Homo sapiens: one gene and its partner. The protein of the gene in region 2 binds, or shares a complex with, the protein of the main gene of each other region. Each region holds a gene or a part of one and is shown on either strand. Other genes may lie near its edges. A codon is read from its position in the direction of its gene.

What was found.
Region 1: the proteins of SSTR5 (region 2) and CORT are in contact, whole or in part, in a cryo-EM structure (PDB 8X8L), measured with the Homo sapiens proteins. Residues at the interface, in NP_001044.1 of Homo sapiens: Tyr89, Leu96, Gln99, Asn100, Ser103, Asp119, Gln123, Glu182, Thr185, Cys186, Asn187, Ala188, Trp190, Gly198, Phe201, Ile202, Thr205, Phe264, Phe265, Asn268, Asn271, Glu279, Ala283, Tyr286, Phe287, Val290, Tyr294; in NP_001293.3 of Homo sapiens: Cys93 (codon at 972), Arg94 (codon at 969), Phe96 (codon at 963), Phe97 (codon at 960), Trp98 (codon at 957), Lys99 (codon at 954), Thr100 (codon at 951), Phe101 (codon at 948), Ser102 (codon at 945), Ser103 (codon at 942).

What each region holds. Positions count from the first base shown.
Region 1 is NC_000001.11:10,445,049-10,452,525, reverse strand, and holds CORT (cortistatin preproprotein), read right to left. Parts: upstream 2,496-7,477; 5' UTR 2,303-2,495; coding exon 2,204-2,302; intron 1,150-2,203; coding exon 931-1,149; 3' UTR 528-930; downstream 1-527. Other genes in the region: CENPS-CORT (APITD1-CORT protein), read right to left, coding at 931-1,149. UniProt on the Homo sapiens protein: Binds to all human somatostatin receptor (SSTR) subtypes. It also inhibits cAMP production induced by forskolin through SSTRs.
Region 2 is NC_000016.10:1,075,730-1,081,964, reverse strand, and holds the end of SSTR5 (somatostatin receptor type 5), read right to left. Parts: intron 4,342-6,235; exon of another isoform or gene 4,253-4,341; intron 3,508-4,252; exon of another isoform or gene 3,234-3,507; intron 3,140-3,233; exon of another isoform or gene 3,124-3,139; 5' UTR 3,097-3,123; coding exon 2,002-3,096; 3' UTR 511-2,001; downstream 1-510.

The DNA of each region.
Region 1 (7,477 bases), on a different chromosome or scaffold from region 2:
GGTGTGTGCCTGTAGTCCCAGCTACTTGGGAGGCTGAGGCAGGAGAGTCACTTGAACCTCGGAGGCGGAAGCCACAGTGAGCTGAGACCGTGCCATAGCACTCCAGCCTGGGCAACAAAAGCGAAACTCCATCTAAAAAAAAAAAAAAAAAAATTAGCCAGGCATGGAAGCGCATGCTGTAGTCCCAGCTACTCAGGAGGCTGAGGCAGGAGAATCACATGAACCTGGGAGGCGGAAGTTGCAGTGAGCTGAGACCGCGCCATAGCACTCCAGCCTGGGTGACAGCTAGACTCCGTCTCAAAAAAAAAAAAATTCTGTGGGTAGCCTTCATTCCTCCCAAAGCAAATCTGAAGCTATAATCCATGAAAAGAATTGCAACCCATTAAGCTACTAATTAAAACTGGTACATAACAGCAAGTTCGAGTATCAGTTTCACAGGCATGTCAGCAGGTTTTCTGTTTAATATGTTTTAAAATTAATTTCAGCTAAAACATGAGGAATAATCATTTTGCTCTTCGAGCCTGATATTAAAAATTTGCTTTTAATGTGAGGGAAATATTTTTTAAATTAGACAATTCATATCAATTCATAAACTGAAATAAGATGTTATTCTGAACTCTTAATTGTGTAGCCTTTAGCTATTTTATTTTAAATCAAAGACAGAGCTTCCCAGCACCATAATGAACATCAGAAGAAAAGCCCAGTGCCCGCACTCAGCACAGTCCAGTCGAACCACAAAAAAATCTTTATCAAAGATCTTCACTTTGGGTTCCAAATTACTCAAGACACGTCAGTATTGGGCATTATTGGAATTTAAATAACAAACACTTTTCAAATGACTTGGGAAGGAGGAGAGGAAAGATCACTGCTGCTTAATACATTTTATTCAGGTCTGTCATTACACTTGCGTGAGCATTCATGGGTGAGGTTTTATTTGCAGGAGGAGAAGGTCTTCCAGAAGAAGTTCCTGCAGGGCATTCTGTCCCGGCGCGCAGATTGCTGGGGGGGTGCGCCTTCCTGCCGCCTGGCCACCTCCCGGGCTTCCTCTCCTATGAGGGGCCCGGCACTGGCCTGGGAGGTCCACTCAAACCACCAAGCGAGGAAAGTCAGGAGGCTGCTTTTCCTTATTCCTGCCGCTTCCTGCATATGCTTTTAAAGAGAAGCAGATGGCAAAGGAAAGAAAACTCAGCAATCTGGCTCAGGCAGCAAGCATTCAAAGATATGCAATCTCCTCCTTACTTAAAAAAAAAAATGATCTAAAAGACTACCCTGGAGAAAAGAGAAAGAAAATATTAAAATGAAAAGATGCTCCATAGCGATAAGCCTCATTTCCATTTAACGGATGAGGATGAGAAAGTGAAGAGAATACCTTAAAGAAATTGCTTTAATTAGAGAAAAGTTGGTCATTTTAAGTCAAGGGAAGAAACCTGGTTTTGCTCCATACTCTGCTAAGGTCCTTAATTAGGAGAGGTCGGGAAATCTGCCATTTTCCCCTCAGTGACTGGCAGCTGAGAAGCCCGGAGTTGGATCAGGCTAATTTACTCATTCTCCCACCTTTGGCCACACTCCTGGATGTTCACAAGTTGCTTTCTGAGACGATGGGACTGAAACAAACGTTATATTCTGGTTTTTCAAATTCCTTAGAAAGCTTCTGGGAGTAATCTGCTGATAAATGGCCTGCCTGAAACTCATCTGGTAATTTTAGAGAAAAATCCATTTTTAATGCTCAACTTTATATACCCTTTCTTGGAACTTTCTCAAAATGGAAAAAAGAACAATCAATCACCTCACGAAGTTACAAATTCTCACAACGGAAAATGTAATGATGCCAATTACTCTGAGCCAGTGGGAGCCTGTGCTATGTATAACTGAAGGCTCTGGAAGGGCTGTCGCAGCTCCATGCCTGCCCTGCAGTGGACGGGTACACTCGCTTCCCCTTTCCCAGACACCCGACGGAGGGCCCTCCTTGAGCTGCACAGGTTTCCAGCAGGCTTCATGGGTTGGGACATGTAACTGAGGATCAGTGGTCTGAATGCGGCATCCCAGTACCTCGGGCCAGCCAAGAACACTACAAAGTTGAGCCGTGTGTCCTGTCCAAGCTGTGAAGTGCAACACACGTGCACACACACACACCATGCAGGCCAAAAAGCCAACAAGAGACAGAGAGTGGGCTAGCGTGTGGCCACGTCGGGACTGTACTCACCTCGCTGTCTCGGCCGGTGGGGCCACCCTCCAGGGGCAGGGCAGCGGTGGCCGTGGCCCCGGAGAGCAGCAGCAGCAGGAGGCCGGGGGACAATGGCATCTTGTGGGCTGACTGGAGCTTCTCTCCCACCCTGCTGCTGCTCTTCCTTCCTGGCAGCCCTGAAATCAATGTTTTGGGGACTTGGGTCTCTTCTTTGGAGCTTGGTGGGTATTTTAAGCCCAATCTCCAGCTGTTTTTGTGTCTATACATGTCTAACGCCTGGATCCTCTTCCCTCTTCCCTCGCGCAGTGACGCAGAAGCTGGAGCAATCAGTGCCCACAAAAGCGCTCTGGGGTTGGATGTAACCCCTTAATTAAAGCTTCAGGTCTTTTCCTGTGTTTAGAGCGAATTTGCTCTTATTTTGGAACGCATGTGCGCTTGCTTCTGGAGAAGTTCTGCTTCCTCGTAATTATGCCTATAGCAGGCAGGAAGCCGTGAGAACAAAAACAAGTGATTTAACATAATATAAAATTAGCCTAGGATAAGGAGCTTGAATGTGAAATTGTGCCCATGTGAAAGTATGACTGAAACTCATCCAGTAATTTCAGAGACATTCTTCTACTATGGGCAGAGAAACAAGGAGGCAATGGGGGCTCAGAGACGCTACGATCGTATCCGCTGGTTTCACCCAATTGTCGGCAAGGAGGCCCCAAGAATCGCTCCCAGTACTGCCTCTCAGCCCAGCATGCCAGACCCACTGTCCTCTAGGCCAGGCCTTCTCAAACTGAAGTGCAGACGGATCACTTTGCAGGCAGGTCCTGATGCACTGGGGCAGGGAGGAGTTGAGAGCTGCATTTCCAACAAGCACCCAGGCACTGCTGGCCCTGGGGCAGCCGGGCTCTGGCCCACCCAGGCTGGGGTGCAATGGCGCGCTCAACTCACTGCAACCTCCGCCTCCTGGGTTCAAGTGATTCTCCTGCCTCAGCCTCCCGAGTAGCTGGGATTACAGGCACCCGCCACCATGCCTGGCTAATTTTTGTATTTTTTGTAGGGACAGGGTTTCACCACGTTGGCCAGGCTGGTCTCGAACTCTTGATGGTCCAGTGTTTTCTTTTTTTGAGATGGAGTCTCGCTCTTGTTGCCCAGGCTGGAGTGCAATGGTGTGATCTCGGCTCACCGCAACCTCTGGCTCCCGGGTTCAAGTGATTCTCCTGCCTCAGCCTCTCGAGTAGCTGGGATTACGGGCATGTGCCACCACGCCTGGCTAATTTTGTATTTTTAGTAGAGACGGAGATTCTCCATGTTGGTCATGCTGGTCTCGAACTCCCGACCTCAGGTGATCCACCCACCTCGGCCTCCCAAAGTGCTGGAATTACAGGTGTGAGCCACTGCCCCCAGCCTGGACCAGTGTTTTCTTTTTGTTTTTGGATGGAGTCTCGCTCTGTCACCCACGCTGGAGTACAGTGGCATGATCTTGGCTCACTGCAATCTCCATCTCCCGGGTTCAAGCAATTCTCCTGCCTCAGCCTCCAAGTACCTGGGACTACAGGCGCTGGCCACCATGCCCAGCTAATTTTCTGTATTTTTAGTAGAGACAGAGTTTCACCATGTTAGCCAGGCTGGTCTCAATTTCCTGACCTCATGATCTGCCCGCCTTGGCCTCCCAAAGTGCTGGGATTACAAGCGTGAGCCACCGCGCCCGGCCTGGTCCAGTGTTTTCTAAACTGCTCCTGACCACCCACTTGTGGGTCATAGGCCAGTACTTTCCTTTCGAATGAAATTAAAATTAGTGTGCATCACCCGTAGTAAGGATAAATAATGATTCGCATTGTGTGTGTCAGGTGTGAGATGTGCTGTTACTGCAGGGCACAGTCAGTTTGGGAAGCAGTGCCCGGCCCTGCCCTTGGCCAGCTCCCAGGGCTCTCTCTCCTCCTGAGGCTGGCACCACTGCTGAGAGTGCAGACCATGGAGTCCCTCTCTGTGCCACCTGCTGGTTCTTCCTCACAGGCCCTCATTGCTGAATCACACAGACAAATGCACAGACCCCTTTGCCCAACGAGACACCGAGTAAAATCTGAAACATCCACCCAAACCTGCTACAGATGACCAGCATCCAAGGCAAGGCTATAAATTGAGGTAACGCAACCCAAAACTGCCGGCACTTTCTAGAAGTGAACATGTTTGTTTTCAGTTTTCCAAAGTCCTGGTTTACACCTTCAGCAGGGAAATCTCAATCTTGAATTTGTCACAGTCTTTTTGCTTATGTTAAAATCCTAGGTAAGATCAGCATGGCCTGCTGGCCAGAGGCTTATACATCGTATGTTGCTTCATCTTTTATTTATTTTGTTTTTTGTTTTTTTTTGTTTGAGATGGAGTCACTCTGTTGCCCAGACTGGAGTGCAGTGGCTCGATCTCAGCTCACTGCAAACTCCGCCTCCCAGGTTCACACCATTCTCCTGCCTCAGCCTCCTGAGTAGCTGGGACTACAGGTGCCCACCACCACGCCCGGCTGATTTTTTTGTATTTTTAGTAGAGATGGGGTTTCACTGTGTTAGCCAGGATGGTCTCGATCTCCTGACCTCGTGATCCGCCCGCCTCGGCCTCCCAAAGTGCTGGGATTATAGGCATGAGCCACCGCACCTGGCCCATCTTTTATTTCTGTACCAAAATAATTCCCACAAATGACACTAAAAATTTTGAGTTATATTTGCAGATGAGACATTCACAGCAGTTCAGCCAGCTTCTTTTTGTTTTTGAGACGGAGTCTTGCTCTGTCACCCAGGCTGGAGTGCAGTGGCACAACTTCAGCTCACTGCAACCTCTGCCTCCCAGGTTCAAGGGATTCTCCTGTCTCAGCCTCCCAAGTAGCTGGGATTACAGGCAGGAGCCACCACGCCCAGCTAATTTTTGTATTTTTAGTAGAGATTTCACCATGTTGGCCAGGCTGGTCTCAAACTTCTGAACTCAAGTGATCCACCCATCTCAGCCTCCCAAAGTGCTGGGATTACAGGCATGAGACCACCACACCCGGCCTCACCAGCTTCCTATATCGTTAGTCTAGTGTGCCAATTTTATTCAATGAGCTCATTAAACATTCTGAGCACCCAGTATGGAACTTGCAATACCACAAGGGACCCACACCACCCACACCCTGACAGAGGTGTTGCAGCCTCAAAGAAATCGGATACATAGACACAAATGAAAGACAAGGACATTTTTCAGTGCGAGAAGAAGTGTGCAAAGGGGAATGTGCTGCAAATTGGGGAAGGCTTCATGAGAACTGATAATGACTGTTTCAAGAAGGTGACAAACTTTAGGAGGTGGAGACAAGAGGATCACTTAAGCCCAGGAGTTCAAGACCAGACTGGGCAACATAGCAAGACCCCATCTCTACCAAAAAAAAACAAAAATTTAGCCAGGCATGGCAATGCACACCTGCAGTCCTGACTACTTGGGAGGCTGAGGCGAGAGATTCGCTTGAGCCCAGGAATTCAAGACCAGCCTGGGCAACATGGCAAAACTCCATCTCTACAGAAATTAGCTGGACGTGGAGGCACATACCTGTGGTCTCAGCTACTTAGGGGGCTGAGGTAGGAGGATCACCTGAGCATGGGAGGTCAAGGCTGCAGTGAGCCAAGATTGTGCCACTGCACTACAGCATGGGTGACAAAGTGAGACTTTATGACAAAAAAAAAAAAGAAAAAATTTAGCCAGGTGTGGCAACACACACCTACAGTCTCGGGCACTTGGGAAGCTGAGGCAGGAGGATTGCTTGAACCCAGGAATTCGTGGCTGCAGTGAGCTGTGATCATGCCACTGTACTGCAGCCTGGCTGACATAGCAAGAGCCCATCTCAAAAAAAAAAAAAAAAAAAAAAAGGCCGGGTGCAGTGACTCATGCCTATAATCCCAGCACTTTGGGAGGCTGAGGCAGGAGGATCACTTGAGCCCAGGAGTTCAAGACTAGCCTGGGCAACATGCAAAACCTCACCTCTACCAAAAAAAAAAACAAAAAAAAAAACTAGCTGGACATGGTGGCACACACCTGTGGCCCCAGCTACTTGGGGGGCTGAGGCAGGAGGATCACCTGAGCTTGGGAGGTAGAGGCTGCAGTGAGTCAAGATTGAGCCCCTGTACTCCAGCATGGGCGACAAAGTGAGACCTTGTCTCAAAAAGAAAAGAAAACTTAGCCAGGTGTGGTAACACACACCTGCAGTCTTGGGTACTTGGGAGGCTGAGGCAGGAGGATTGCTTGAGCCCAGGAATTCATGGCTGCAGTGAGCTGTGATATACCACTGTACACAGCAAGAGCCCATCTCGAAAAAGAAAAGAAAAAAGAAAAGGCCAGGTGCAGTGACTCATGCCTATAATCTCAGCACTTTGGGAGGTTGAGGCAGGAGGATCACTTGAGTCCAGCTCAGGAGCTTGAGACCAGCCTGGGCAACATTCTGAGACCCTATCTCCACAAAAAAAACTAAAAAATTAGGCAGGCATGGTAGCGCATGCCTGTAGTCCCAGCTACTCAGGAGGCTGAGGCAGGAGGATCACTTTAGCCTGGGAGGTGGAGGCTGTAGTGAGTCATGATTGTGCCACTGCACTCTAGTCTGGGTGACAGAGTGAGACGCTGTCTCAATGAAAAAAAAAAAGCACAAAGTCTCTGAAAGTTATACAGCTACTAGGGTTGCAAACCCAAGAAGCAAACCCAGATCTTTCAACCTTTGGAAAGTCTATAGTATCTATTCCCTAAACTCTTCTTGATGAGTTTTATTATTTATTTATTTTATCTATTTTATTCTACTTTATTTTATTTTATTTTGAGACTTAGTCTCACTCTGTCACCCAGGCTGGAGTGCAGTGGCACAATCTCGGCTCACTGCAGCCTCTGCCTCCTGGGTTCAAGCGATTCTCCTGCCTCAGCCTCCCGAATTTATTTTATTTTTTAGAGTCGGGGTCTTGTTCTGTCACCCAGGCTGCAGTGCAGTAGCACAGTCACCTCACTAAAGCCTTGAACTCCTGGGATCAAGCAACCGTCTGCCTCAGCCTCCTGAGTAGCTAACTGGGTCTACAGGCATGCATCACCATGCCTAACTTATTTTTTACTTTTTTTAGAGATGGGGTCTCACTGTGCTGCCCAGGCTGGTCTCAAACTCCCAGACTCAAGTGAATCTCCTGCCTCAGCCTTCCAAGTTGCTGGGACTACAGACACAAGCCACTGCACCTGGCCAATAAGGAGTTTAAAGAGTGCTTATCCAAAAATGAAACTGCTAACATACGGGCCTTTGGCTGAACGTACTAG
Region 2 (6,235 bases):
CAGGGAGAGCGCCCGGTGTCAAATCAATTGGAGAAATTGATCTTGGCAGGGATTTCCGAGCCATCTGCTCGGTCCCCAAAGCCTTCTGAGAGGGTGAACATGGCACCCAAATCCCTGGGGAGGCAGGTCGAGGGGGGTGCTGCGGTGTGAACGGGCCTCGGTTTCCCCCAGTGCACCCTGGATGCACCCCTCTTTGGTGACTCAAGAGGCAGAGATTTGTGGACCCCCTGCAGAAGCCCACCCTGCCCCGCCCAGAGCTGTCAAGAAGCTGTGAGGGGCAGCTCCAGCCTAAGACCCCAGGCAGCTTCCATCATTTTTCACCCTGTTCACGAATTCCACGCCTCCCGCTTCCTGCTGGGCATTTGGCCGCCCCCGTCCCGGCCTTGTCTGGCTCAGCGGGGCTGGGGCCGGGGGCGGGCCCTGTGTCGGGCCTCGGGGGAGCCCAGGCTCCGCTCACTCTGCGCTGGCTGCACTCGGCTCCAGGGACAATATTTGCTCGGGGAAAGAATCAAACATTTATCCTCGCATTTATTCAGGGGAGCAGTTGTCAAACACGCGTGTCCTCACTGCTTGGATGTTTCCCAGGCCTGGCCTCAGCCTGGGCCTTTCTCCTGCCAGGATTTGTGCCCACTCAGCCGCTCCCTGTGCCCTCCAGGAGGTTGAGGTCCTGCTCTGGGCAGACGGCGGGAGCACGGGTCGGGGCCAGTGCTGGGCAGGGCAGAGGGGTCCCTGAGGCCGAGTGATGCCGCACCCTGGTCCTTCTCCTTCCAGCCTCAGAGCAAGGCCAAGGTGCCCCAGAGACCCCAGCAAGGCTCTCTGGGCCCACGTTCTGGGCCTGGGGCGCCAGGAAAAGCTGGTGTTTGGGGTGGGGGAGGTAGGACAATTCTAGGTGGGAGGCGGCGGGATTCCCAGGGCCTGCCATTTGCGTCACCCGCGCGGCCGCTGCCTCTCAGCAGTGCTGTCTGCTGTGGCCTGGGGAGCAGCTCCCCGCTGCGCCTGGATGACCGTCCTCTGCTCCTGTCCCCGTTCCCTCTCCCGGGCCAGAGCCCCTGCCCCAAAGCAGAAGAGACGGCCGCAGGTTCCCTGTCCTCTCCAAGCCCTGACCCTCAGGTCCTCCTGCAGCAGGAGCACCTCTCCCTAGTGCCCTCAGGCACCCCACACTGGACCCCTCCAGACAGAGCCAATCTCAGCACGGCACAGCCATCTGCACCCCCAGCAGCCTGGAGGGCTGCAGCCTTCACCCCAACCTCAGCCCCCAGCTCTCCTCTGCACCAGCCGCCTCCCCACCTCGCCCCTGGCTAGGCCAGCGCCCAAGCCCCCACACTCCCCTCTCTGAGACAGCAACTGCCGCCCGCAGCCTCCCATGGGGGGTGTCGGGCAGCAGGGTGGGGCCCCCAGGACAGGCGTGACCCTGGCTGACCAGGGGCTGCCCAGCCACACTCCCCTTACACCTGCATCCCCAGAGTCCACACAGTGCAGGGCAAGCGAGGGGCTGGGGCCCTGGCCAGGGACTCCGGGGACCTGAGTCAAGCGCTTTCGGGTGTCTTTAACTTAGCAGAGCAGCCTTGGACGGGGACCCGGTGGCTCGGAGCTGACATGCAGCTGGTGGGCCGGGCAGGTCAGCTCCGCCGTCAGGAAGACCCTCTCGCCTGGCCGGCCTTCTGGAAAAGTCGCTCCCCAGAGGGAAGGCCGGCATGGGCTGGGGCCAGATGGAGGGTGAGGCGGCCCTGAGCACTTGCACGGCATGGCGGAGCCCCCCACCGGTCTGGCCACCTCCCCTACCTCCCGGGAGCCCCCGCTGTGTGGCAGACGGTTAGAGGGGATGGTCGGTCACGGTGGGGAACCTACTGCCCTGTGTCTACCCCAGCCTGGCTTCAGCCAGCTCTGTCCTCACACCACCGCCGGGGAGCATCCTGACTGGCAGGTCATGGGTGGGGGTCACCGCAGTGCAACCTCCGCTCCTGGGGGTGACACGGGGCCGCCCACCCCCCGCCTGCACTCTCACAGCTTGCTGGTCTGCATAAGCCCGTTGGCTGCGGCGCGGTGCGCGGGTGGCGTGGCCTCCTGCTGCTGCCGGATCCTGTCTGGACGCGGCTCCGTGGCGTCAGCGTCCTTGGCACCAGAGCCCTTGCGGAGGCACAGAACCTTCTGGAAGCTCTGGCGGAAGTTGTCAGAGAGGAAGCCGTAGAGGACGGGGTTGGCACAGCTGTTGGCGTAGGAGAGGATGACCACGAAGAAGTAGAGGCCGGCGGAGGCGGGCTCCTGGGGCAGCGCCACGGCCAGGTTGACGATGTTGACGGTGAAGAAGGGCAGCCAACATCCCGCAAACACCAGCACCACCACCAACACCATGCGCGTCACCTTCCGCTCCGAGCGCCGCCGCACGCAGCCCACGCGCACGCCCGCCGCCCTCACCTTCACCACGATGAGCAGGTAGCACAGGCAGATGACCAGCAGCGGCGCGAAGAAGCCCAGCACGGCCGTGTAGATGATGAAGACGGCGCCCCACAGCCCCACGGGCTCCGGCCAGCTGGCGTTGCAGGTACCGCCCTCCTGCACGTCCGCGAACACCAGGAGCGGCAGCGACATGCACAGAGACAGGACCCAGGCCGCGGCGCTCGCCAGCTTGGCCACACGCGGGCGGCGCCAGCGGGCCGAGCTCAGCGGGTGCACCACTGCCAGGTAGCGGTCCACGCTCATGACTGTCAGGCAGAAGACACTGGTGAACTGGTTGACGCCGTCCAGCGTCATGACCAGGCGGCACAGGACGGGGCCGAAGGGCCAGAAGGACGCGGCGTTCTGCGTGGCCAGGAAAGGCAGCCCCAGCATGTACAGGACGTCGGCCACTGCCAGGTTGAGAATGTAGATGTTGGTGACGGTCTTCATCTTGGCGAAGCGCAGCACCACGTAGATGACCAGCGTGTTCCCGCCCAGCCCGGCCGCACACACCAGCAGGTACAGCACGGGCACCAGCACCGCCCGGGCCCCTGCCGAGGGCGCCGGCCCCACCAGCGTCCTGTTGTCACCGCCTCCAGAGGCAGCCCCCGGGGAGGAGGCGTTCCAGCTGGGCGTGGAGGCTGGGAACAGGGGCTCCATGGCGGCAGCCCTGGGGTGCGTCAGGCTCTGCAAGAGAAGAAGGGAGGACGCCAGGGTGGTGAGTCCCTGAACCAGCACATGCAGGCATTCCTTCCTCCTGGGCCCCAGCCCCGCCTGCCAGGAGGCGCGGGATCACCGGGTAAACACGATTAGTCATGTTTAGCTTGGCCGGGAATCACGTTAAGCAAATTGTTTGGAAAATAAGCCAGGAGAGGAAGGAGCGGCGGGCAGGTGGCCCCGGGAGCCCAGACGGACGGCTGCTGTCGATATGGCGACAGCTGCCCTGTGGCCGCCCCTGCACCCAGATGGCGCCTGGCCTGGCCGCAGCATCCTGGAGTCTGAGGCCAGCACCTGCGTCTCCCTGAAGCCCCTCAGAGCCTGCCCTGCAGTGCTGCTGCCCTCGTCTACCAGGTAAGGAGCCGAGGCCCAGCGGGCGGCCCCTCCCGGGACACACAGGGAGAGGTGGCAGTGGAGAGAGATGGGGCCGGTGGTCGGCCCCCTGTCCGCCTGGGATGAATGGCACCTGGCTAGGACGACCTGAGAAGTGGCTGGACGTGGTGTCGCCACCGCAGCCTCGAGGGACTTTCACCGGGGTGCCCGCTGCCCGTTGGCCCCGAACCTCTCTCCAGGCCAGCGCAGGGACCGTCACCCCCACAGCAATGACAGACATCTGTAAACCCAGGCGGGGGCACAGCACAGGGCCAGAGAGACACCACCCTCCCCACGGGGCGGCTGCAGAGAAGCAAACACACAAACCACACAGAGTGGTCACACGGAGCCCCAGGAGTCACACAGGGCGAAGGAGGGGGGACTGCGGGCGGGGGCTGCACACCCTGCAGCCCGGAGGAGAAGCCGCGGTGGGGGGTGTGGGCGGGTCAGAGGCATAGCGTATGGGGGCTGCAGCCACCTGACACTGCCCAGTCCCATCGGAGCTTTGAGCCCCCTCCCAGGCCCTGGAACCCCCCACTGTGGCCCAGAGAGAGAACAGGGGAGACTTGGGGGAGGGGAGGGAGGGGTGTCCATGGAGAAGGGTGGGCTGGGAATGGTGACGTCTGTGGGTCCAAGGCCATGGGCACGTGTGTACCTCGTATATTGTTTTTGTATTTTTCTGCATGTTTGAAATCATTCATAAAAATGATACTCCGGCTGGGTGCAGTGGCTCAAGCCTGTCATCCCAGCACTGTGGGAGGCCGAGGCGGGTGGATCACCTGAGGACAGGAGTTCAAGACCAGCCTGGGCAACATGGTGAGACCCCCGTCTCTACAAAAAATACAAAAATTAGCCAAGTGTGGTGGCGGGCGCCTGTAGTCCCAGCCACTGAGGAGGCTGAGTCAGGAGGATCATTTGAGCCCAGGAGGTTGAGGCTGCAGTGAGCTGTGATTACACCACTGCACGCCAGCCTGGGTGACTGAGCAAGACCCTGTCTCAAAAAGAAGATCAATGCCTCCCCTGACGAGTGGGGCGGAGGAAGTCCGGATGTTTGGGTTGACCCTGGAGCTGTGTGACTCTGGGGGTGGCCAGCAGAGAATCAAAGTGTCCCCTAGGATCCAGACCAGGGACAAGCCCCTCCCTGGGGGACCTCGGCCTGAGCAGGGGTGGAGCCGGCTGTGGTGACCTCAGCATGTGCCGTCTGGAGCCCTGGGGCTGCTCAGCTGACCGGCCCTGACCCTGGAGGCACCTCAGAGCACAGGACGACCCCAGCAGCTGCCAGGAAAGGCCACAGTCCTGGCTGGGGGCTGTGGGGCTGGGCCAAGGCCACTGAAATCTGGTAGACAAGGAAAGGAGAGCTGGGGACGGGGGAGCCCAGAACACAAGGCTGACAGCACAAAGAGAAAGCCCTCTGTCCCCAACAAACCTAGAAATCAACATCCCCAAGCTCGCATGGCCCAAACACACTAAGAAATACGACTCAGAAAATCAACAGGGCCAGTGGACCCATGGATCCATCTCAGGGAGATAAAAATAACGAGCAAACAGGTACGCTTAGGCTATGTTTAAATATGTGCAGGATCCACAGAGACAGCATGGATAAAATGTTAGGAAATACATTTGGCTTCTGTCTAAGGAGTAAAATGAACAGGCATCTATTTTTAAAAATTACAAATCCTGGATGTAAAAAATACAATCATTTAAGTGGAAAAAAACACTACAAAAGTGGTCAGAACCAACTCCAGTGTGGACAGCACTGAAGAGAGAATTGGTGAATGGGAAGAGGGTTGAAAGATTCACTGGAGCAGGGTGCTGGCACAAGGTCCAGAGAGGGCTCTGTGGGGTGGGCAGGGGGAGAGCATGGCTGGGCTCCCCCAGAACTGGCGACAGGATCCCTTCTGGGAGCGCACCTGTCCCAAGCAGCATAAAGGAATGAAAGAGCATCCCCATCAAGCTGCGGCATCTGGGCAGGGACGCCAGCCAGAGAGACACCAGCCAGAGAGACAGGACGGATTCCCACAGGCAGGAGCCAGAGTGCAGCAGAATCCTCAGCAGGGACGGAGCAGTGGCCTCCACGCAGACCCCGGGGTGGGAGAAGAGGGGAGGTGGGGAGGGAGAAAGAAAGACAGGGTGTGGGGAGAGAGGGAGGGAGAGGGAGAGGGAGAGGGAGAGGGAGAGGGAGGGGGTGGCAGGGAGGGAGAGAGAAAGATAGGGTATGGGGGAGAGGGAGGGGGAGGCGGGGAGGGAGAGAGAAAACAGGGTAGGGGGAGAGAGAGAGGAGGGAGAGGGAGAGGGATGGGGAGGCGGGGAGGAGAGAGGGAGAGAGGGAGGGAGAGGGAGGGGGAGGGGAGGAGAGAGGGAGAGAGGGAGGGAAAGGGAGGGGAGGTGAGGGGGGAGGGAGAGGGAGGGGGAGGTGGGGAGGGAGAGAGAAAAGGTGGGGGGAGAGGGAGGGGGAGGAGGGGGAGGGAGAGAGAGGGGGAGGTGGGGAGGGAGAGAGAAAGACAGGGTGGGGGGAGAGAGGGAGGGAGAGAGAGTGGGGGGGGAGAGAGAGAGACAGGGTAGGGGGAGAGAGGGAGGGAGGGAGAGGGAGAGGGAGGGGAAGAGGCCTGTGGCTCTCCGCTCCCCAGGGACCAGCATGGAAATCCAACACGCCATGTTTGCGGCTCCCTCTGGCTGCCTGTGGAGCATGCATTCCGGAAGGACAGTGGTC